3 separate regions of the Homo sapiens genome follow, and regions 2 and 3 are each linked to region 1. The links come from fine-mapping of genetic effects on gene expression. A gene starts in region 1. Each other region holds a variant in brackets. All regions are shown on one strand. Distances are from middle to middle. Region 1 holds the start of TAF1A (TATA-box binding protein associated factor, RNA polymerase I subunit A). Region 2 overlaps MIA3 (MIA SH3 domain ER export factor 3). Region 3 has its middle 5.2 kb from the start of HHIPL2.

What was found. PIP is the estimated chance that this variant, and not a neighbour inherited with it, causes the effect.
Region 2: its variant is the best candidate, but not a certain one, in a credible set for the expression of TAF1A in fibroblasts (GTEx, PIP 0.64).
Region 3: its variant is the best candidate, but not a certain one, in a credible set for the expression of TAF1A in testis (GTEx, PIP 0.83).

What each region holds. Positions count from the first base shown.
Region 1 is chr1:222,585,884-222,593,815 of GRCh38, forward strand. TAF1A (TATA-box binding protein associated factor, RNA polymerase I subunit A) reads right to left here and starts at 4,050. Exons shown (of 11, transcript NM_005681.4): 1 at 3,844-4,050; 2 at 2,560-2,682. The coding sequence starts at 2,680. TAF1A-AS1 (TAF1A antisense RNA 1) reads left to right here and starts at 4,037. Exons shown (of 3, transcript NR_110613.1): 1 at 4,037-4,079; 2 at 4,375-4,524; 3 at 6,283-6,750. RefSeq lists enhancers at 4,017-4,550, 4,551-5,083.
Region 2 is chr1:222,626,090-222,634,021 of GRCh38, forward strand. MIA3 (MIA SH3 domain ER export factor 3) reads left to right here. Exons shown (of 28, transcript NM_198551.4): 4 at 1,486-4,300; 5 at 6,076-6,237; 6 at 7,015-7,160. Among named protein-coding and RNA genes, the nearest start is that of MIA3, 12 kb to the left of the region's middle. The variant C/T (reference allele first, on the strand shown) is at 3,495.
Region 3 is chr1:222,549,369-222,557,300 of GRCh38, forward strand. It overlaps a transcript of TAF1A not described here. Among named protein-coding and RNA genes, the nearest start is that of HHIPL2, 5.2 kb to the left of the region's middle. The variant T/C (reference allele first, on the strand shown) is at 4,846.

The DNA.
Region 1 (7,932 bases):
TATAAAGTAATATATAGTCATTTAAAAATACCAACATGCTGGAAATTTTATCTCTTGCAAATATTAAACATACAATAAAATTTTTTCAGATGATTCCTTAAAACTATGCAAGGTAGTACTCAATTTTTCAGAAAAAACTAGGGGATACAAAAGTGAAAAGTTTGAAGACTACTGTGCTAGACTAGTGTTCTCAGACTTTTGAATGTACATACAAATCACCTGGGGACCTGCCCTTGCTACTCAATGTGGTCCTGGCATGCAGCAGAAGTATCACCTGGAATCTCATTACAACTACAGAGTACTATGCCCAGCTCTCTCAATCAGAAGCTGCATTTTATAAGATCTACACCAAAGCTGCTCGGCATCAGTGGCAATACCTGCCAGCTAGCCTAGGAAACTGACAAAACACCTCGTCCTTAAAACATCCCTTATTTACCTAAAGGAGAGAACTGTTCTCAGGCTAAGCTCCCTTCTATCGCTCAAGCTTTCACAACTGAGATTATAAATTGACTTTAGATAACTATACCTAAATGTTTGGAAAATACTTTTGTCTTCCAACCTAGCCTAGCTACCTCAGGAAAAGTTCTCCTCTCATTTCATTCTTTAATGAGCAAAAGATAGTCTTACTTGATCCTGATGACTTTAAGAAAAAAAAATTGTCAAGGAAAACACATTTTTACATGGAATAGAGATGTACAATAAAGAACTAGTGTCATCAACCTAACTTCTAATATGCTACTCAAAGAATCTGGAAACTTATCAATCTGTCAACAAGTATTTTTTGGGCACCACTGTGTCCCAAGCACTATCGCAGGTACTCATCATACAGCTTCAATCCAGACTGGCCCTGTCTTCAAAGTTTTTATTCTAAGGGGGTTGCTGGGCATGCCCTTCAAAAAGCCAAAAGATATCTACCAGCATAAAAAATAAATAGAACAATTGTTAGGCAATTTTGTTTTCCTATTATGGTTAATTACCAGCACAATGTCAATATTAATTGCAAGTATTTTCTCATTGCAGACCAAAAGTATTTTCGGTTTAACAGGCTATCCATGACATATAAAATATTCCTAAGCATGTAAATTTTGGTCTTTGGTCTTAAACCTATCTGCTTGCAGACTGACTCAGACTTTCTATAGAACACTGGTAACAGAAACATACCCAAGTATGACTTAACTATAGGAAATTTAAATTACTAGTTTGTTCCCTACCAGGGATGCGGTAGCACTACCTCTGAAGTATCATTCATTCAAATCTGCCTTAAGCCATGTGCATTAATCTAGCAAAAATAAAATGAGGAGAGGAAAGGCACTATTATTTTTCAACACTCATTATGCATGAGATACTATGCTAGGTACTTTACATATATTGTCTCATTTTTAAAAATGCATCTCAGTCGTTAAAAGTGTAAGCTTTGAGATCAGACAAACCTGGATTTGACTCCTGATACCACTTAAGAGTTTAATGTCTTTGAGATTCAGTTTCATCCTACCTAAACTGCCTAGCATAAAAATTTATTGAGAATTTACTGAGATCATTAAATGGGATGATACTTAGATCAAAAGAAAAAAATGGAAGCGAAATTTTAGGAGCCAAGGAATCTCTGTCAAGGGGAGAAAAGGCTGGGCAAAAAAACACATATTTAAGGGCAGTAAGTAAAATGCTGGTTCAAATGTAATCCCAGGACTATACCACTCAATATGCCAGCATACAGATAATAGCTTCTTTTATTTATACTTATATTAAATATATTCTTATAGGGAATTTATCCCATAGAAAAACATACTTGCATTTATATTAGATAAAAATGGGGGAAATTTTATCCCATAGAAAATCATGCTTGCATTTACATTAGATAAAAATGGGGGAAAATGCTCTTTTATCTAGGCCGGGTGCAGTGGCTCATGCCTGTAATCCCACCACTTTGGGAGGCTGAGGTGGGCAGGTCACTTGAGGTCAAGAGTTCAAGAACAGCCTGCCCAACATGGTGAAACCCTGTCTCTATTAAAAATACAAAAACTAGCCAGGCGTGGTGGCTGGTACCTGTAATCTCAGTTACTCGGGAGGCTGAGTAGAATCACTTGAACCTGGGAGACAGAGGTTGCAGTGAGCCAAGATCTAGCCACTGCACTCCAGCGTGGGCAACAGAGCAAGACTCTGTCTCAAAAAAAAAAAAAATCTATTACACGATCAATTCTATTCGAAATAATTTCAATGCAATTCAACAGCAACTTCTTGAACACTTCCTAGGCATGTTTTCCTCAATGGCAGAGACCATATCTTCACCTATGACTCCCCAATATTTAATCAATGCCAGAGATAAAAGTGCTCAGTAAGTATTACTGGAAAAAATGTGTATCTAGCATAATACAGACTATCTATTATTAATCCAAGGGCAAAGAATTCTAAAAGAAAAAAGATTTCTTTTGGCTTTTAGCCAAAAAACCCTCCACATATTCCTCTTGAAAATTAAACCAGTCTGGTTATTCATTTTGTATCCCTATTGAATCTTACCACCTCCTTAAAGTTAAAATGGCTCAATGTTATTATTTTACTTACCCACAGTTTCTACGTATGTTTGAAGCCAAGGAAAATGCATTCCTGCACCACTGAGCACAGATGTTTCCACTTCTTCATCATCTGTCACAGGCCCTTTTAATTCTTCACTGAAATCACTCATACCTATTACAAGATGAGATATCAGTTACTTTCTGTACATCTTAATCCACAGTCTTCTGAGTTGTACAGAAAAACGGCTATCTTTTTATCTAATAAATATAATTTGATTAGCAAAATGCATTATACCTGTCAGCTCTTTTAAAGTAAAAAATGAATTTAACTATGTCAGCAACAGCCAAAATGAATGATCCATTAAAGACCGAACCACTAATGTTTCAAGTCCATGTAAAGATAAATAAGATACTGCCCCTCTAATTTAAAAAATCTCAAGTCTAGACGAAGAAACAGCAAAACGTATAATAACAAAACAATATGAAAAGTACAGTAAGAATAGAAGTAGCAGCTAATATTTATTAGGCCCTTACTATGCACTAGAAGTATAAATTATCTAATTTAATCCCCACAGCAATCCTGAGGTGGGTACTATTACTTTCTTCCATGTGAAGGTTGAAAAAACTGAGGGGCTTAGTGAAATGATGGAACCTGCCTAACATCACAAAAAATGGTGAGGACGATAGTCTAGGAAATAGAACACCAAACTACTTGGCATGACTAGAATTCGAGGTGCGTGTGGAGGAGGGGTGCGGAAGGTGAGAAACGAACCTAGAAAAATCATCATAAGCCAAGGTGAGTTTAGACTTACTCCTAAAGATGCTCAGGGCCCCTTCCTCATTACCCATATGAAATCGAGTATTAGTGCCCCTGATACTACCTCCAAATTTCCCCTATTTCCCCTCTTCAATCCTACAGCACTACTCTAGTTCAAGACCCCTTCAAACAGTGCCTAGATTACCGCATCAGCTTTCTAAACAATTACCCTGGCTCAGATTTTGCATCTCTGCATTATACCCAGAGTAAACCTTCTAAATTCAAAGCATGTGGCTAGGAGTATGAATTATAAGTAACAACTGAATTTGAATCCGACCCATCACGTGTTTTCAGGAGTAGTTACACAAATCCTCCCTTTCCAAATCCTCAAAAACCCAAATTGGTGACCCGCAGTTGCCACGGCAACCAAAGCTTCTCTATCCCCTTCTTTCGTTTTCAGACCCCAAGGGTTTCAGGTATTAGGAGGAAATATCAGGAGAACATGGATGAATCCTGACACACCCCTTCCCGTTCCATTTAAACGCAGGAACCACGGGCGATATCTGCGGCACTTACCCGCCTAAATTTAGAGCTCCTCAGTAAAGCTAAACTCAGTCTCCGACTCCGGCCCACGTGAAGAAATTCCCACCGGAAGACGAGTTAGGAGAGCTTTATATGAGCAGGCGCTAAACCTGGTTTAGGTATTTAGGCAGCGCGCGGCCCGGCTCGTAACTCCTCCTGCTGCAGCAGGCGTATCGTTGGCCTCGCCTCGACCCCGGAAGTGACTTCTGGAAGTGACCCAGGAAGTGACAGTGAGCTGCCTCTCTGCGATTGGTTTTGCCCGAGTTTTATTTTTGTCTGTCTCAGCTAGAAAGTGGGAGACTTTCATTTAAAATGGAAATTGGGGCGAGGGGTTGGCGGCTGGGCGAAGGGAGCATTCAAAAGCGGAGAATGTCACTTTACCCGAGAAATTCACTACGATGGGCCATTGGTTTCTGCTCGGCTCGCAGGCGCACTGCACGAGTGGAGGTGTGGCTAGTGGCTGTGATGAGATAAATCCATGCATAGCCTTTTCATTGCGAGCTTGAAAGTTCTTTTCTATTACAGTTTTAGCTTTAGGTTTAATTGGTTCGACTGCCTTCTCCACAATTTGGGCGAGAATTTCCTTTGCCTTCTCAGCAAAAGTTGTTCTGCGGACCCGTCTGGGTCAACTTTCATGAGGGACATTGAGACAAACAAATGAAATATGGGTTAAAGGTAAGATGGTTAAACCGTGTGAAATGAGAGACAGTTGAGGGGTTCTAGGGAAGATGATCCCGGAAAAGGACTGCAGGCCCATGGAAACGCAGTGTGCTTCTCCAATATTTGGAGGGCTGATCAGTGAAAGAAGGATCAGACCCTTTTTCTTAGCAGCAGAGAACAGAACTAGGACTAATAAGTGAAAGGTAAAGGGAGGCTGCTTTCAAGTCACAGCAAGAAAGAATTTTGTCCACAAATGAGGATGCACAAATATAGCATAGGCTCCCCCAGGAATCACTGAGTTTCCTCTGTGTAGGTGAACAGTTTGAGTAGAATCGGAGTATCGGAGAGGAAATTAAAGGGTCTGGTAAGAGTTTGAGGCCGGGCGCGGTGGCTCATGCCTGTAATCCCAGCCCTTTGGGAGGCCGAGGCAGGCGGAAAGTTTGAGCTCAGGAGTTCGAAACCAGCCTAGTCAACATGATGAAACCCCGTCCCTACAAAATAAAAATAAAAAAAAATAAGCTGGGGTGATGATGCATGCCTCTAGTCCCAGCTACTCGGGAGGATGAGGTGGGAGGATCACCTGAGCCCAGGGAGGTCGAGGCTGCAGTGAGCTGTGATCACCCTACTGCACTCCAGCCTGGGCGACAGAATGAGACCCTGTCAAAAAAAATTTTGTACATGGATTCCTTAAAATGCTACAAATAGTTGATTCTATGTTGTCTTCTGCATAAAACAATATGCAGTAGTTAAGGACTTGCAAGAAAAGTTCCTTCTGCTGCTCTCTCTGTCATTAGTTCTTGAGTCCTCACTCAAGCTTGTGCTCTAACTCTACAGGCAGGGCTAACATAAATTATGCGTAGTCCAGGAGACCACACACAAAATAACATACATAATCATTACTTTCTTGTCTAGAGGCTTAGTCTGGCTACTTTTCTCCCATTGGCTTGAGGTGTAAATTCACCAAAACCAGCCCAGAAATGATTTTACATGGAAAAAAGTTTATGTTCTCCCGAAAATGAGGAAGAGCTTTCAGATTTTCCTCGAAGTTCTCAAACAGCTCTAAGGAGCAGTAGGAAACGTGCCCTACCTATGCTTTTTCTTTCCCATGCTGCAATTCTGACAGAAAATGTGTTGGAGAGAAGAGATAAAAAAAATCAACTAGATCACATCCAATAGCATAAACAAGAAGGAAGGAGGGAAGGTTGCCGTGGCAGGCATCTGTAGTCCCAGCTACTCCAGAGGCTGAGGCAGGAAGATCGCTGAGCTCAAAAGTTCAATTCCATCCTGGGCAACATAGCAAGACCATGTCTCAAAAAAAAAAAAAAAAAAGGCATGACAAATATGAAAACATAAAGCATGCAAAGACTTTTCTAGATTTCAATCTATAAGAAAACATGTCCTAAGAAAAACATGTTCTTACAATTACTTTGTGCTACAGAGCAACTTAATATGGTGATGAATTATGTTGTTTTTAAAGTTGCAAACTGTCATTTAAGGAATATTATTTCCATGAACGCTTCCTGTGCAATCTATTAAAGAACAAACTTCACATAGCCAAACAGTTGAAGAGACCTCATCATAAATAGACTATCCTATATCACAGCTAACGAGAATAAAAAAGGAATGTGGCATGAAAGCATAAAAATAAAAACATCTCAGATAATAATATAGAGAAAACCAAAATACATGGGCTAGAATTCCACCCCAGGGACTGTATCCTCAAAGACACAGGTTTTTCTTCCTTTTTCTTTTTTTTTTCTTTTCATGTTTCAGTACTCTGAGCAGCTACAAAAAGAAGACCAGTCTATCCTGCTGGAGACAGTGGCCACGTGAAGAAAGAGCTCTTGCAGTATGAAAGACCACATGGAAAGAGAGGCCACATGGAACCAACAGTCAGCATCTTGGTTTCGGACACGTGAAGAAATTCATCTCAGACTGTGTATCCTAAATCAGGCACTTGCTGAATCTAACTACATGAGTGAGACCAGTTGACAACACATGGAGCAGACATGAGCTGTTCTCAGTGAGTCCTACACAAATTCCTGACTCACAACACTGTGAGCAATAAAATGGTTGTTATTTTAAGCCACTGAAGTTTGCAGTGATTTCTTACATAGGAATAGATAAATGAAACACAAACATTGATCATTTGCATCTTCTATCTTTTTTATGACTAGTCTTATTGGAAATTACCAGTTTATTTCTGCCATGGTTAGAAAACAAACTCTGAAATTTTGATACTTTAAAATTTTTTTGAGACTTACTGTGCCCAGAATATAGTCTATCTTGGTGAATGTTCTGTGAGCACTAGACAAGAATATGTATTCTGTAGTTATTGAGCATTGTGTCCATCAATGTCAACGTGATTAAGGTGGTTAATAGTTGTCTTCAGATCTTCTATATTGTATTGATTGTTTTATGTGTAGTGTTGCTATTAATTATTGATACAGGAGTGTAAAACTTAAACTATGGCTGTGAATTTGCCACTTACTTTAGTTTTGTCAGCTTTTCTTTTGCATTTTTGAAGCTCTGTTATTGGGCATATAAACATTTATGGTTCGTGTGTCTTCCTGATGAATTGACCATTTTATCATTATGAAATGTCTTTATTGCTGATAATACTCCTTATCTTGAAGTCTAATTCATCCGATATTAGTATAGCCACTGCAGCCTTCCTAGCTTACTGTTTACTGGTATATTTTTATCCATGTTTTTACTTTCAACCTGTGTTTTTTAATTTAATGTGCTTCTCTTATAGACAACAGATAGTTGAGTTTGTCTATCATTTTGCTATTTGTTTTCGATTTGTCCCATTCAGTTTTGTGTTCCTTTGTTCTTTACTTCCTGCTTTCTTTTGGGTTAATTAATGTTTTTATATTTCATCTTAATTCCTCTGTTGGCTTTAACTGTATCTTTTTGCATTATTGCTTTACAGTGTTTCTGAGAATTATGATATACATTCTTAACTTATCACAGCCTTAGAGTTAAAATTATGATACTTCATGTAAAATAAAAGAGCCTTGCAATAGTAAAGTTCTACTTACCACCTCCCCAAGTCCTTTGTGCTTTGTTGTCATATATATCATATCTATGCACATTGTTATTTTTGCCTTAGTCATATGTATCGCAAAGAAATTAAGAGAAGAAAAGTATATATTACCTTTTGTGTATTTACCTACATTTTGCTATTTCCAGTTCTTTTCATTCCTTCCTGTTTGTGGTGAATTATCTTTAAGAATAGCTGTCAAAAAGTATTCACATTCTTGTATGTGCATGTTGCTTCTCCCTTTAAGAAATAGAATCAGCTGGGCATGGTGGCTCACGTCTGTAATCCCAGCAATTTGGGAGGTCAAGGCAGGTGGATCACAAGGTCAGGAGTTCAAGACCAACCTGAACAACATGGTGAAACCCTGTCTCTACTGA
Region 2 (7,932 bases), 40 kb after region 1:
TTATAGTAATTGATGTCTGCTTTCATTCAAAAGTCTTTGAGTAGCTCTTTGGAGTTGCTGCAGAGCGTGCAAGCTGCTGGGCTAGGGCAGTTCTTAGAAGAGATTGGCAGAGTGAAGTCACAGAGCTATTGCTATGCTTAAAATTTCTCGACGCTCTCAGGGGTTATATAGTCAATCGTATTGCCTGTTTGGCTTCACTCCTGATGAAGAGACTGCCCGGGATTTGAGTGTGAGACAGCAATTCATTGGTCACAGAGACCTGACCTGTATACTAATTGTAGTTCCCACTGCATGATTCCCTTAATATTAAAAAAATTGGCTCAGAAGTGTGCATGATGGAAAGAGGGAAGTCATTCATCTCCAGTACACAGGACAGTTCTCACCAGAAGATTGTGAATGTTTAGTTAGGGGAAGAAAGTTATCTTTGTTGGTTTTTTAACTTTTCCATCATTTTATGGCTCCTTGTATGTCAATTTGCTTACTGGTGGAGGAAGGGAAAAATACAGATTTACTTGACAGTCCTGAAAGCAGATCTTAGTGACTGGCTAGAATCCTTATTTGGAGTTAGGTACCTACCTTACTGAATCTTGTTTTCAAGTTGTTCTTGTGGCAGTATGAAAATGGGGAGCCTCCTTTACACCATTCTTTGTTCTCTTACATTTTTATATCTCATGCACCTGTATCTCAGTAAGTTCCTTCTGAAGCTGATTTCTTTCCCAGTCCAAGGAAAATATGAGCCCCAAATCCATGTAGACTGAGAGCCTGACAGCCAGGTGATTCTGCCTGTTTCTGACTGGGTGAGCAGAGAAGTATGACATAGAGGGCACAATGTAGAGAAGCTGATGGTCTTTCAGCTCCTCCTGGATGGGTTATAAGGTGAATTCCCAGAACATCAGGCATAGATGATGGGAGTTGGGGAACCCAATAAATGACACCTTACTTTTCCCCACCTGTGCTCAAAACAAAATTGAGAGACCCAGGAGTTGGGCAAATAGGAGATCAAAATGACCCCATTATTTACTGATAAAGCTGTTTGGAGTATGCAGAAATAATGGGCTTTCTAACATTGCGGTCTAAACTAAGATGGACTTATCCAGTCACAGACAGAGCTATCCAATAGGGGTCTCCCCAGGTGGGACTGTCCCTGTAAAACGGACAGCATGGAGGAACAGAATATGTGTTTCCTCTCCAGCAGGTCCCAAACAGAAAACAGGATTGGGACTGAGCAAACTCACCAGCCACATGAATCATTCTTCCCCTGGGGAAGAGAGAATGAAGGGAAGCCAGGAGTATTACTCAGATGGGAAAGTGGGTTCCAGCCTCCTATCCACCCACTGCCCAAGAACAGTCAGTGCCCAGTGTTGACGCAAAAGCTCCTCTAGAGCCAAACGTGAATTCGAGATTATCTCAATCATTAACGTGGATAAGACTTTGCTCTGGTGACACTTGGCTATTGACAGACTAATGTTTTTCTTTTTCTTACAGGAGACGGATTTTGTTTGTTTTGATGGAGGAAGAGATGATTTTCATAATTATAATGTAGAAGAACTTTTAGGGTTTTTGGAACTGTACAATTCTGCAGCTACAGATTCTGAGAAAGCTGTAGAAAAAACTTTACAGGATATGGAAAAAAACCCTGAATTATCTAAGGAAAGGGAACCTGAACCTGAACCAGTAGAAGCCAACTCAGAGGAAAGTGATAGTGTATTCTCAGAAAACACTGAGGATCTTCAGGAACAGTTTACAACTCAGAAGCACCACTCCCATGCAAACAGCCAAGCAAATCATGCTCAGGGAGAGCAGGCTTCATTTGAATCTTTTGAAGAAATGCTGCAAGATAAACTAAAAGTGCCAGAAAGTGAAAACAACAAAACCAGCAATAGTTCTCAGGTCTCAAATGAACAGGATAAGATTGATGCCTATAAACTTTTGAAAAAAGAAATGACTCTAGACTTGAAAACCAAATTTGGCTCAACAGCTGATGCACTTGTATCTGATGATGAGACAACCAGACTCGTTACTTCATTAGAAGATGATTTTGATGAGGAATTGGATACTGAGTATTATGCAGTTGGAAAGGAAGATGAGGAGAACCAAGAAGACTTTGATGAGTTGCCATTACTTACCTTTACAGATGGGGAAGATATGAAAACTCCAGCAAAGTCTGGCGTTGAGAAATATCCAACAGATAAAGAGCAGAATTCAAATGAAGAGGACAAGGTTCAGCTAACTGTGCCCCCTGGCATCAAAAATGATGATAAAAATATACTAACAACCTGGGGGGACACTATCTTCTCTATTGTCACAGGAGGTGAAGAAACAAGAGATACGATGGATTTAGAGAGCTCTAGTTCAGAGGAAGAAAAAGAAGATGATGATGATGCATTAGTCCCAGATAGCAAACAGGGGAAACCACAGTCAGCAACAGATTATAGTGACCCTGACAATGTAGATGATGGTCTTTTTATTGTAGACATTCCTAAAACAAATAATGACAAAGAAGTAAACGCAGAACATCACATTAAAGGAAAAGGGAGGGGAGTTCAGGAATCCAAGAGGGGCCTGGTACAAGATAAGACAGAATTAGAGGATGAAAATCAAGAAGGCATGACTGTGCACAGTTCTGTTCACAGCAATAACCTCAACTCTATGCCAGCTGCTGAAAAGGGTAAAGACACATTAAAATCAGCTTATGATGATACAGAAAATGACCTAAAAGGAGCAGCTATTCATATCTCAAAAGGAATGCTCCACGAAGAAAAGCCTGGAGAGCAGATTTTGGAAGGTGGCTCAGAGAGTGAATCTGCACAGAAAGCTGCAGGGAATCAAATGAATGACAGAAAGATTCAACAGGAATCCCTGGGTAGTGCACCACTCATGGGAGATGACCACCCTAACGCATCCAGAGACAGTGTGGAGGGAGACGCTTTGGTAAATGGGGCCAAACTGCACACGCTTTCAGTGGAGCATCAACGTGAGGAATTGAAAGAGGAATTAGTTCTTAAAACTCAAAACCAACCTAGATTCTCCTCTCCAGATGAGATTGATTTGCCCAGAGAACTGGAAGACGAGGTTCCCATTCTGGGAAGAAATCTTCCCTGGCAACAAGAAAGAGATGTGGCTGCCACAGCCAGTAAGCAAATGAGTGAGAAGATAAGGCTCTCTGAGGGAGAAGCCAAAGAGGACTCCTTGGATGAAGAGTTTTTTCATCACAAGGCAATGCAGGGCACAGAGGTAGGACAGACAGACCAAACTGACAGCACAGGAGGACCAGCTTTCCTTTCTAAAGTAGAAGAGGATGATTATCCCTCTGAAGAACTACTAGAGGATGAAAACGCTATAAATGCAAAACGGTCTAAAGAAAAAAACCCTGGGAATCAGGGCAGGCAGTTTGATGTTAATCTGCAAGTCCCTGACAGAGCAGTTTTAGGGACCATTCATCCAGATCCAGAAATTGAAGAAAGCAAGCAAGAAACTAGTATGATTTTGGATAG[C/T]GAAAAAACAAGTGAGACTGCTGCCAAAGGGGTCAACACAGGAGGCAGGGAACCAAATACAATGGTGGAAAAAGAACGCCCTCTGGCAGATAAGAAAGCACAGAGACCATTTGAACGAAGTGACTTTTCTGACAGCATAAAAATTCAGACTCCAGAATTAGGTGAAGTGTTTCAGAATAAAGATTCTGATTATCTGAAGAACGACAACCCTGAGGAACATCTGAAGACCTCAGGGCTTGCAGGGGAGCCTGAGGGAGAACTCTCAAAAGAGGACCATGAGAACACAGAGAAGTACATGGGCACAGAAAGCCAGGGGTCTGCTGCTGCAGAACCTGAAGATGACTCGTTCCACTGGACTCCACATACAAGTGTAGAGCCAGGGCATAGTGACAAGAGGGAGGACTTACTTATCATAAGCAGCTTCTTTAAAGAACAACAGTCTTTGCAGCGGTTCCAGAAGTACTTTAATGTCCATGAGCTGGAAGCCTTGCTACAAGAAATGTCATCAAAACTGAAGTCAGCGCAGCAGGAGAGCCTGCCCTATAATATGGAAAAAGTCCTAGATAAGGTCTTCCGTGCTTCTGAGTCACAAATTCTGAGCATAGCAGAAAAAATGCTTGATACTCGTGTGGCTGAAAATAGAGATCTGGGAATGAACGAAAATAACATATTTGAAGAGGCTGCAGTGCTTGATGACATTCAAGACCTCATCTATTTTGTCAGGTACAAGCACTCCACAGCAGAGGAGACAGCCACACTGGTGATGGCACCACCTCTAGAGGAAGGCTTGGGTGGAGCAATGGAAGGTGAGATGCCTATGGCCTTGTAGAACAGGGCTGGAGAAGCAGGTGGGTGGGTCGCTGAGGTGCCTCCTATCTTGTGAAGCTCTGTTCAGTTTCCAATGTGCCTAAAGGAGAGGGACAACACAGGGAGGTCCACATGTTCCTTCCTGCCATCTTTCTTTTAGGCTGGAGCATGGAGAAGAATTTCTTGCCGTTTCCCTTAGAATAGTTGAGACTGGTTAGCATTTTCAAAAGGAAACTTTGTAAAAAGCTAAAGAGAAAGATATAAACCAGAAAGTAATATACAAAATACAAATGTCATGTAAAATTATGAAAGGGTTTTATTGAACACAATTTTTCAGTCGTCAGATAACTGCTCTGTAACCATGGATTGACTGGTATAACTTTTAGATCAATGCCTTGGCTAAATTCCTACGTTCTCCCCAATTTTATCTTTTGTGGATGGCTTGTTCTTCCTGTTTCTTGGGAGCACTTACTCCAGTTAAACCCTCCTGGGCCGTAAGGTTCTTGCATGCAGATTAATCAAGATTGGGACAGGGATGCCTTCGAATGCAGTGCTTGATGCGTGGAAGCCATTCAGTTGAATTAACCCCGAGCCAATATCCTGACATAAGCATTCTGATTCCTAGTTCCTTGTTCTATTCTCTGCATCCAGGCTTTTCTCTTTCTTTTCTTTTCTTTTCTTTCCCTTTGCCCACCTGCCCTTCCTTCCTTCCTTCCTCTTTCTTTTTTTCTTTTCTTTTTTTTTTTCTTAAGACAGGCTCTCACCCTGTCACCCAGGCTGGAGTACAGTGGCATGATCATAACTCATTGCAGCCTCCAACTCCTAGGCCCAAGCGAACCTCCCATCTCAGCCTCCTAAGTGGCTAGGACTACAGGCATGCATCACTGTGCCCAAATAATTTTTATTTATTGTAGAGACAGGGTCTTGGTATGTTGCCCAGGTTGATCTTGAACTCTTGGCCTCAAGTGACCCTCCTACTTTGGCCTCCCAAAGTACTGGGATTACAGGTGTGAGCTACCGCACCTGGTATATCCAGGCTTTTCAGACAGATGTATCTGAATTGAGAGTACCAAGGGGACAGGAAGCCACAGGAAAACGTATTACTCCAGAGTGCTAATTTTTCCTAAGAAATGGGGGAGGAGAACTTTTTTGCATTTAATTAAAACATATATTTTGGATAAGAAGGCAATATTCAGATGAATTTTCAGGGTAAAATATGAGGCTACAAGGAAATTCACCTTTGCTGTGGATCACATTGGACTGTCCCCTAAGCCTCTTAGGAGAGGAGATGGCTTCACTTTGTTTGACTCTTAGAGGTACTTTGAAAGTATTCGAAAGACATCTCAGCAAGCTGCCTTGGCGTGGAATGTCCCTGTCTGTACTAGTTCTGTGAGAAAGGCATGCTAGGGTATGCAAGAGTTCATGTTACTTCTCTGCAGAATAGATGTTTCACATTTCTGCTCTTGAGTGGAATTCTCATTTGCACATTTATTTGTGTGGGTGTAGGCTGATTTGCCAAGGAAAGATGTTACTGAAGTCCCTACCATAAATGTATTTATTTATGAAATACTCCTCTGTAGATTTTATTATGTAGATTAGTCATCCTTTAAATGGAATAAAAGAAACTGAAACTCTTATTTCCCTGCCCAGTTGTGCTCCATGGGATGCCCATGCATGGAGGTCAATGTTGAGGTGCCCTGGTGTGGTCAGTGGGATTAGCCTAACAGGTAGTGTCATCAAGCTGTGCTAGCCCAGTGTATTCTTCTCACCCTAGAGATGCAACCACTGCATGAAGATAATTTCTCACGAGAGAAGACAGCAGAACTTAATGTGCAGGTTCCTGAAGAACCCACCCACTTGGACCAACGTGTGATTGGGGACACTCATGCCTCAGAAGTGTCACAGAAGCCAAATACTGAGAAAGACCTGGACCCAGGTAAAGCCTGCTAATTTTTTTCTACAAAGTGGAGAAATCATAAAGAAGGCCTTCTAGGAGATTCATTGTCAAAGGCAGGAGCTAGAGACTTGTTAAATTCAAAGGAAAAAAGGATCCCAGAGCTAATTGAGAGAAAAGCAGGCGTCAAGACAGATGGAGATCAAAAATAGGAAAGACACCAGAGACTATAACTAACCTACAAACCAATGTTTGGCTGTCACTATCTTGTGTAAATTATTTCAATCTAAAATATTATTCTTAAAAGGCCTTATGCTCTAAAACAGTAGTTTTCAACCAGCCCAGCAGCATCAGAAACTCTGGGGGTGGAACCGGCAATCTGTGTTTAACAAGCCCTCCAGGAAAGACTGACCTGATGCAAATTACAGTTGGAGAACCACTGCTCTAAAACTCACAAATTCTGTTTTTCCTCTACTTTACCCCTCTCTTTCCAAATAAAATACAATGCAATGCAGTTCTTTTTTTTGATTTGCTATCTGGACATGGTAAGTAAAACTTCTTAAAATACAGTGAAGGGGTCCAAGTATGTTTATAGCATAAGCTCATAGGAGACAGTACAGAACACTGTAGTGTGTAATAGTCCAGGATAGACCGACACAAAGAGTATTTCACCACAGTGCACAGTAAACATCCAGTGAGAGATGAGAACGTTTACTTTCCAGGCACAGTGCCTAATATTTAGTGGATACTCAATAAGTATTTTTTAAAGAGAATTCTTATTCTAAAGCACAAAATGTCTATCTTTCCTCCCAATTCCAGGGCCAGTTACAACAGAAGACACTCCTATGGATGCTATTGATGCAAACAAGCAACCAGAGACAGCCGCCGAAGAGCCGGCAAGTGTCACACCTTTGGAAAACGCAATCCTTCTAATATATTCATTCATGTTTTATTTAACTAAGTCGGTAAGTTTAACATAGTTTTTTTTTAACTAAAATGTTGATTATTACAGTTTTTAAGTTGATTTTGAGCATGAGGTGAAGAACTTAAAATGTCTTTATGAACCTGACTCCTGATCCTTTGAAGAGAGACCCTGAAATGAGCCACAGGTGTGTGGCTTTAATGGGCTCTTAGTTCAGCACATGAGGAGGCTTTGCTGCATGCTGGAGCTGGGCACAAGCACACCTGTCAAACGTGGTTCTTCCTTTCAGGGACCTTTCAGTTTAGCCAGGAGAGAAAGACAGTCACTTGAAATGTAACATGATAATGGGCAGGAAGAGAAGTATTTACCTGATGGTAGAACAATCTGTGGCATAAATTGGTTCATCGTGGAGGGAGAGTGATAGGAAAGGCCAGAAATTCGCTGAGATATGCTTTAAGCAGATTCGAAAGAGATGGGAGCTTGACTTGGAGTTGTCAAATAGAAGGGCTAGGGGAAGGATGTGGGCAGGGGGGCGGGCAGCATGCAGTCAGGCAGAAGAAATAACACATTCAGAGAAATGGAGGCATGAAGAAAAGGTTATTTGGGGAAGCCAGGGAAGCGTGGGTAGTTGGTGTTTTTTCTTTTTCTTTTTTTTTTAAATTGAGACAGGGTCTTGCTCTGTTGCCCAGGCAGGAGTGCATTGGCGTGATCTCAGCTCACTGCAACCTCTGCCTCCTGGGCTCAGGCGATCCTCCTGCTTCAGTCTCCTGAGTAGCTGGGATCACAAGTGTGCACCACCATGCCTGGCTATTTTT
Region 3 (7,932 bases), 37 kb before region 1:
CATTCAGACCATAGAAGAGGGAGGTGGTCCAGTGAAAACAAGGAATCAACAAGGACTGTTTGGGACAATTTCCTCAGGAAGCACAGGACAACTGGGTGCCTTCCTTTGCCAAATCTATACCTGCTGTAGGGACACTCCTCCTCACTTAGTATATGTTCCCACATTAGTATTTTAAAAATGTGTTTTGTGGCCGGGCACAGTGGCTCATGCCTGAAATCCCAGCACTTTGGGAGGCCGAGGCGGGTGAATCACCTGAGGTCCGGAGTTCAAGACCAGCCTGGCCAACATGGTGAAATTCCATCTTTCCTAAAAATACAAGAATTAGCGGCCAGGTGTGGTAGCTCACACCTGTAATCCCAGCACTTTGGGAGGCCAAGGCGGGCGGATCACAAGGTCAGGAGTTCAAGACCAGCCTGGCCAGCATGGCGAAACCCCGTTTCTACTAAAAATACAAAAAATTAGCTGGGCATGGTGGCGCATGCCTGTAGTCCCAGCTACTCAGGAGGCTGAGGCAGGATAATTGCTTGAACCCAGCAGGCGAAGGTTGCAGTGAGCCGAGATCATGCCACTGCATTCCAGCCTGGGTGACAGAGCAAGACTCCATCTCAAAAAAAAAAAAAATTAGCTGGGTGTGGTGGCGGGCGCCTGTAATCCCAGCTACTTGGGAGGCTGAGGCAGGAGAATCGCTTGAACCCAGAAGGCAGAGGTTGCAGTGAGCTGAGACTGTGCCATTGCACTCCAGCCTGGGCAACAAGAGTGAAACTCCATCTCAAAAAGTAATAATAATAAAATAAATATAAAATAAAATAAAAACGTGTTTTCCTTTGTCCACATCCCTTGCACATAACAGGCTTTGATAAATATTTCTTGAATGAATAAATGCAGAACAGGAGTCCCAAACTCACACAGCCCCAAACCCAAACAAGCATGAGCCAAGGTGTAGGCCAATGGGGACATTTGGCACTTGAGCTAACTCTCCTTTCAGCATTTTCCATGGTTCTGGTCCACCTTGAATTTCCTTACTGGCAAAAGCTTCTGTTTGAAACGCAGATGAAGTCCAAGTTTCTTCTTGTTCCAGATGTGCTGCTTCAGAGGGTGCCCTACCTGGCTGCCCAACTCATCGCCAGAAACAGTATTTGCCAGGGTATCATCAAGAAGGGACAGTGAACCTCAGTCTAGCCAAGTCTATACTCACAATGTTCTGGATTATGAAAGCCCCAAATAGCATTTAAAATACAAACAAAATTGGCCAGGTGTGGTTAATGCCTATAATCCCAGGACTTTGGGAGGCCAAGGCAGGAGGATCATTTGAGCCCAAAAGTTTAAGACCAGACTGGGCAACATAGTGAGACCCTGTTGCTATAAAAATTTTTTAAATTAGCTGGGTGTGGTGGCGTGTATCTGTAGTCCTAGTTACTTGGGAGGCTAAGGTGGGAGAATTGCTTGAGCATAGGAGTTCGAGGCTGTGGTGATCTGTGATCACACCGCTGCACTCCAGCCTGGGTGACACAGGAAGATCCTGTAGATAGGTAGGTAGGCAGAAAGATAGATGCATAGATAGATAGATAGATAGATAGATAGATAGATAGATAGATAGGAGGGAGTAGTCAGAATGATCATCAGAATAGTCCTGCTTTCCTATTTGTACTGTTCAGTACTACACCTAGTTGGCCGGGTGCAGTGGCTCATGCCTGTAATCCCAACACTTTGGGAGGCTGAGGCGGGTGGATCACTTGAGGCCAGGAGTTTGAGACCAGCCTGGCCAACATAGCGAAACCCTGTCTCTACTAAAAATATAAAAAAATTAGCTGGGTGTGGTGGCACACGCCTGTAATCCCAGCTACTCAGGAGGCCGAGGCAGGAGAATCACTTGAACTCAGGAGGTGGAGGCTGCAGTGAGCCGAGATCACACCACTGCACTCCAACCTGAGTGACAGAGTGGGACTCTGTTTAAAAAATATATATATATATAATATACCTAGTTGAGTGGTGCTTTTTAAAACATGGGTCACACCTATAATCCCAACACTTTGGGAAGCTGAGGTGGGTGGATGGCTTGAGCCCAGAAGTTTGAACAGACTGGGCGACATAGTGAGACTCTGTCTCTAGAAAAAAAAATAAAAATAAAAAATTAGCCAGATGTGATGGCGCATGGCTGTGGTCCCAGCTACTCAGGAGGCTGAGGTAGGAGGATTGCTTGAGCCCAGAAGTTCAAGGCTGCAATGAGACATGATTGCACCACTGCACTTCAGCCTGGGTGACAGAGTGAGACCCTGTCTCAAAATAAATTAAAATTAAAATAAAATAAATGTCATCCATGATTCACTGTTGACTGTGCTATTTCTTCTGGGTTATTTGCTCAAATGTCACAGAATGTCATGCTTCTGGAAGCCTTAAGCAGGAGGAGTAACATGGACTAATTTCAGCCAGTGAATTCACCCCCACTGCCTTCTCAGAACCATCAAACCCTGGGATATGGAAGAATGAGTGCATTATCTCATCCAGGTAGGACCTGAGAGTATTTTCTGATCTTCTCATGACATTTATGTATCGATTTCCCCTTTGTCGTGAACAATATGGAGATCTTATTGTTTTGAGCAGAGTCACTGCAAGATTAGCAGGGAAAGATGGGCGGGCAGAATCTGATCAGACAGTGACAGCATGAGTTTCTGATTACTAAAATATGTAACATTTCAGACGATACTACGTTTTAGATATAATCGTGTATGTAATTATGGCCAGGCATGGTGGCTCATGCCTGTAATCCCAGCACTTTGGGAGGCCGAGGTGGGCAAATCACAAGTTCAGGAGTTCGAGACCAGTCTGACCAACAAGGTGAAACCCTGTCCCTACTAAAAAAAAAAAAAAAAAAAAAAAAAAAAAAAAAAAAAAAAAAAAAATTAGCTGGGCGTGGTGGCATGTGCCTGTAATCCCAGCCACTCAGGAGGCTTAGGCAGGAGAATCACTTGAACTCAGGAGGCGGAGGTTGCAGTGAGCAGAGATTGCGCCATTGCACTCCAGCCTGGGTGACAGAGCGAGGCTCTGTCTATATACATATATATGTAATTATATAATAATCATGCAATAATTTTACAAAAGATGTCTTGGTGTCAATTCAGTAAATACATACTATTTTGTGTGAAGTATTATGCTGGAATAGAAATGTTTAACAGAAAACTGACATATAAAACAAACTTTTTCAAGGAGTTTATGCTCTGAGAAAAAAGGATGAAAGTATCCAAATAATACTGGCAGATATAAGATTAAGGTAACAGTAAGGGAGGAACAAACTGCCATTAGGGATCCCAAGGACGGAGAGATGACATTCGGCTGCAGGGGATTAAGAATATCATAATGAAAGTTGACTGGAGCTTTTAGATAAGTTATAGATGGAAAAGAACAGAAAAGACATTTTCACTGAACATTAGGTGAGCTTATAAAATAACTCTGAAACTATAAGCTAGGACCAGACAGAGTATCTGAAATCACTTCAGTTTCCACTTTTGAAGCAAACATAATCCTTTAAAAAATTAGCTTGGGCTGCTGTTAACACAGCCACAAACTTGGTGGCTTAAACAACAGAAATGTATTGTCTCACAGCTCGGGAGCCCAGAAGTCTGAGATTAAGATGTTGGCAGGGTTGGTTCCTTCTGAAGGCCGCAAGGGACACTGCTCCATGCCTGATCCCTAGCTTCGTGGGGTCTGCCAGCAATCTTGCATTCCGATTGTGGATGCATCACCCCAAGCTCTGTCTTCATGTTCACATGGTGCTCCTTCTCCCTGTGTGCGTTTGTGTCCAAATTTCCCCTTTTATAAGGACACCAGTCATACTGGATTAGTGCCCACCATAATGACTTCATTTTAACATGATTGTCTCTGTAAAAACTATCCCCAAATAAGGTCACATTCTGAGGTACTGGGGGGTAGGACTTCAACCATTCTTTTTTAGGGGACACAATTCAGCCCACAGCAGTAACACACACATTCACACACACGCACACAGTTTCATATAGCATGTGCCTTTTAACATCCCCCCCGCCGCCCCGCACAAGACAGGGTCTCAGTGTCACCCAGGCTGGAGTGCCAGTAGCTGGAACTGCAGGTGTGTGCTACCACGCTCAGTTAATTTTTACTTTTTTTTTTCTTTGTAGAGACGGTGGTTTCACCATGTTGCCCAGGCTGGTCTTGAACTCCTGGGCTCAAGTGATCTATCCCCCTCGGCCTCCTAAAGTGCCGGGATTATAGGCATGAGCCACCATGTCCAGTGCAAGTGCCTTTTAAAAAGTGATGTTGAGAGTCAGGTGTTTATCCTAAATCAGGTCATGGAACACAACAGAAAAAATATAAAAAGAAATGTTCTAGCTCAGTAGCTTCTCATATAGTTTACTGATGTAACTATCTATCTGCCTTCAGACTCCCTCTGTCACAGTCTAAAGATGAACAGGTTGTACCTCAGATTAGAGAAAGTATAACAACTCACTTGTACGAAGCATTACAGTTTACAAAGTATTTCCCCACACTGCATTTCATTTGATCTTCAGTTCTCTCAAGACAATTAAGTCAGCAAGGTAGATATATTACCAGTGAGCATATGAATGAATGAAGTCCAAGAGGGGTTCAGTGAAATATTTTAGGGCCCCACTTTAGATGAATAGAGATGGCAACACAATTCAGGTGTTCTGAATTACAGCCCAGATCTTTTTCATTCCATCAGGATGTACCCAAAAAGAACGAAAGTAGTTATCACTTTTATTTGTTCTTCATTTGGAAAAATTTGTCTGATGCAGCCTACTGAAGAGTGTATTGACTGAAGATTCAGTTCCATTGATAAGATTATCTGGGAGT[T/C]CTTGGTATAGGCAGGAGGGGAGTTGTAATTAAACAACTGGCAGTGGTATCACTATGGGACTGACGGGCGGAAACAAAGAGCCGCCTCTACTCACTGAGCTAAAGGCTACCTTCATAACTATGAAAACAACATAGAAGTCAGCTTCGTATTTTTTATGGGACTGAGTCGACTCTTACCTGGTGGCAGATTGGTTTAGAAGCATGAATCTTGGATTGACTTATTCAGATGTTAGTCATATTATTTGTAGACCATCCATCAAAGGTCTTGCTTGTTTCCTTTTGGAATATTTAAAATACAAAGATTCTAATTCAATCCAGCAGAAAAAGCCCTTGTGCTGTAAATATAGGTAAATAACTGGGTCCAAAAGGGCACACCTATCTGTTTTTTTAATTTTTGTTGCTTTTCCTTTTTCAAAAATGTTAACATAAAACAATGTTTCTATTTATTGAGAAAAAACATTTACCAGGACCCATGCTCAGCACTTTACATCAACCTTTCCAGACCATCCCATTTTACAGAATAAAGGTGAGGCCCAGGCTAGGTGGGGGGCTTCAGTCATGCTGGAATTTGAACCCAGACCTTTCTGACTCCATAGAACATTCTTTTATTTCTTTTTATGAGGGGAGGTGGGAAGGGAATGGGGTGTTGACAGCTTTACAGAGATGTAATTCACATTCCATATAATTAATCAGCTAGGGACTAATAATCCAAAATATAGAAAGAACTCATACAACTCAATAACAAAAATATAATTCCACTTTAAAATGGGCAAAGGACCTACATAGACACTTCTCAAAAGAAATTCAAATTGCTAACAGGTATATGAATAAGTGCTCAACATCTCCAGTCACGACGGAAATGCTAATCAAACCAGGAGATACAGCCTCACACCTGGTAGAATGAATCGTATCAAAGGTCAAAGATAAGTGCTAGGGAGGATGAAGAGAAGAGGAAGCGCTTGTATGCTGCTGTTGGGGATGTAAATTATGGAAAACAATATGGAGGTTCCCCCAAAAAATTGAAAATAGAAATATCTGGGTATATACCCAAAAGAATTGAAATCAAGGTTGCAAAGAGATATCTGCACTCCTATGTTCATTGCAGCATTACTCAACGTCCTTTGATGAATAAAGATAGGGTTTATAAAATTACAATTACATACTGCTCAGCCTTATAAAAGGAAGAAATCCTGCCATTCAGAACATGGAGGACATTATGCTGAGCAAAATTAAAATAGGCAAGACACAGAAAGAGAAATACTGCACGATCATCTCACTTGTATGTGAAATCTGAGTCCAATTCATAGAAGCAGAGGGTAAGATGGTTGCCAGGGGCTGAGGGAAGGGGGAAATGGAGTGATATTGGTCAAATGGTACAAAGTTTCAGTGATACAAGATGAACGATTTCTGGATATCCAATGTCCAGCATGGTGATGACAGTTCAGTACTGTATTACATACTTGTAATTTGTTAAGAAAGATCTTATATCTTCTCATCACACATACATACACAATACATACATAATGGTAATTATGTAGAGGTAATGAAGATATTAATTAGCTTGATTATAGTGATAATTTCAGAATGTATATCAAAACATCAGGTTGTACATCCTAAATATATACATTCAGAGGTTTCAAGGAGAAAACAAGACTTTAAATTATCTTTAGTTATTGCTAACGTGTCTTAAAATAGTCGTGACGAATGGTTATAAGTAGTAACCATATAAGCAAGCAGTCCTGTCAGACTGTTCCAGCACAGTATTTCAGCTCACTGCTTATATACAGGTGGTAGGGTTCAGTACAGTGCAAAATCACATCAAACTTGCTCAAAAGTTACATTCAAGCAGAATCTCATCAAGGTTTAGGTGTAAGAGTACATCTGGTTATGGATTACAGAAGCATAATCACTAATCCCATCAGACATCTCATGTGTAAGAAAAGGCAAGGACTGGGGTCATTTAAGGAATGTAGTGACTCAGGCAAGCGATGTGGGGGTGCCCTGTGCCCTGTTTTGTCTTCAAGGCATCTTTCCAGAGAGTTGCATGTCGTCACAGGGTCAGGGGCTTTGTGAAATGATGCTGGCAGGCAGAAATGAGCAGACCTGGGTTCTTTTTGCTGCTTTGTCTCACTCCACCACCTGGCTCAGCTCTCTGCATGTAGTCAACACTGACTGCACTGGGAGGCCATACAGATACTACATGAGAGTGTGATCTTTGGAACCACATTGATTGGGTTGGGATCCTGGTGCCAACACCTATGAGCTGTGACCTTGGCAAGTTACTTCATCTCCAATGACCTCATTTTCTTTATTGGTAAAATAGGAATAATTCATAGGACTGTGGTGGTTTTACAATGAAAGGTAAAGCCCAATTTTAGCTATTACTGTTATTCATGGAAGCAGCTTAAACATCAGTGGACCTAAAAAAAGTTTCACAGGTGACTTGCACTACTCTTACTGAACATTTGATAAGAACATTTGATGTAAAAATGTTGAGACAGCTTTGTATGGAAACCAAGAATCAAAACTACTCATTTCTTTTATTCTCACCTCCATTTTCTTAGAGATCAAGAGAAATCATAGTCCTGTTTTATAGCTTTTGACTAAAAGTTTCAGGAAGTAGATCTTGGCCTATGCTTTCAGATTTTTTCCACATCGTCTGGGAATTTCATTGCTAGAGTATTGGTCTTATACAGAACTCCTACACAACCGAATTATGGACTCCCTATTTATGTGGAAGCTTTAACTTGGTTTATTTTGGCTCTGTGGAACACCTACTCATTTTACATGTACTTTCTAAGTGCTTCTTTATTGATAGACCTTTCTTACTAAGTAATATTGAAATATAAACTATTGACAAAGCACAATTTGCCCCCTAACCTTCTTGCAGATGGTTTAGAATTAGTAGGACTATAAGCCAAAGGGAAATGTGTGTCTCGCCATCTAAATATTAGACTTGCTCTGAAGTTAGTGAGTCTTCATGGAACTCAATTACTAGTTATTCCAGCAGTAAATGTAAAAGCCAAGACATTTCTGAAGAAGCACTTATTCTACCAATTATTCCAACATATTATAAAGCTCAGCTCA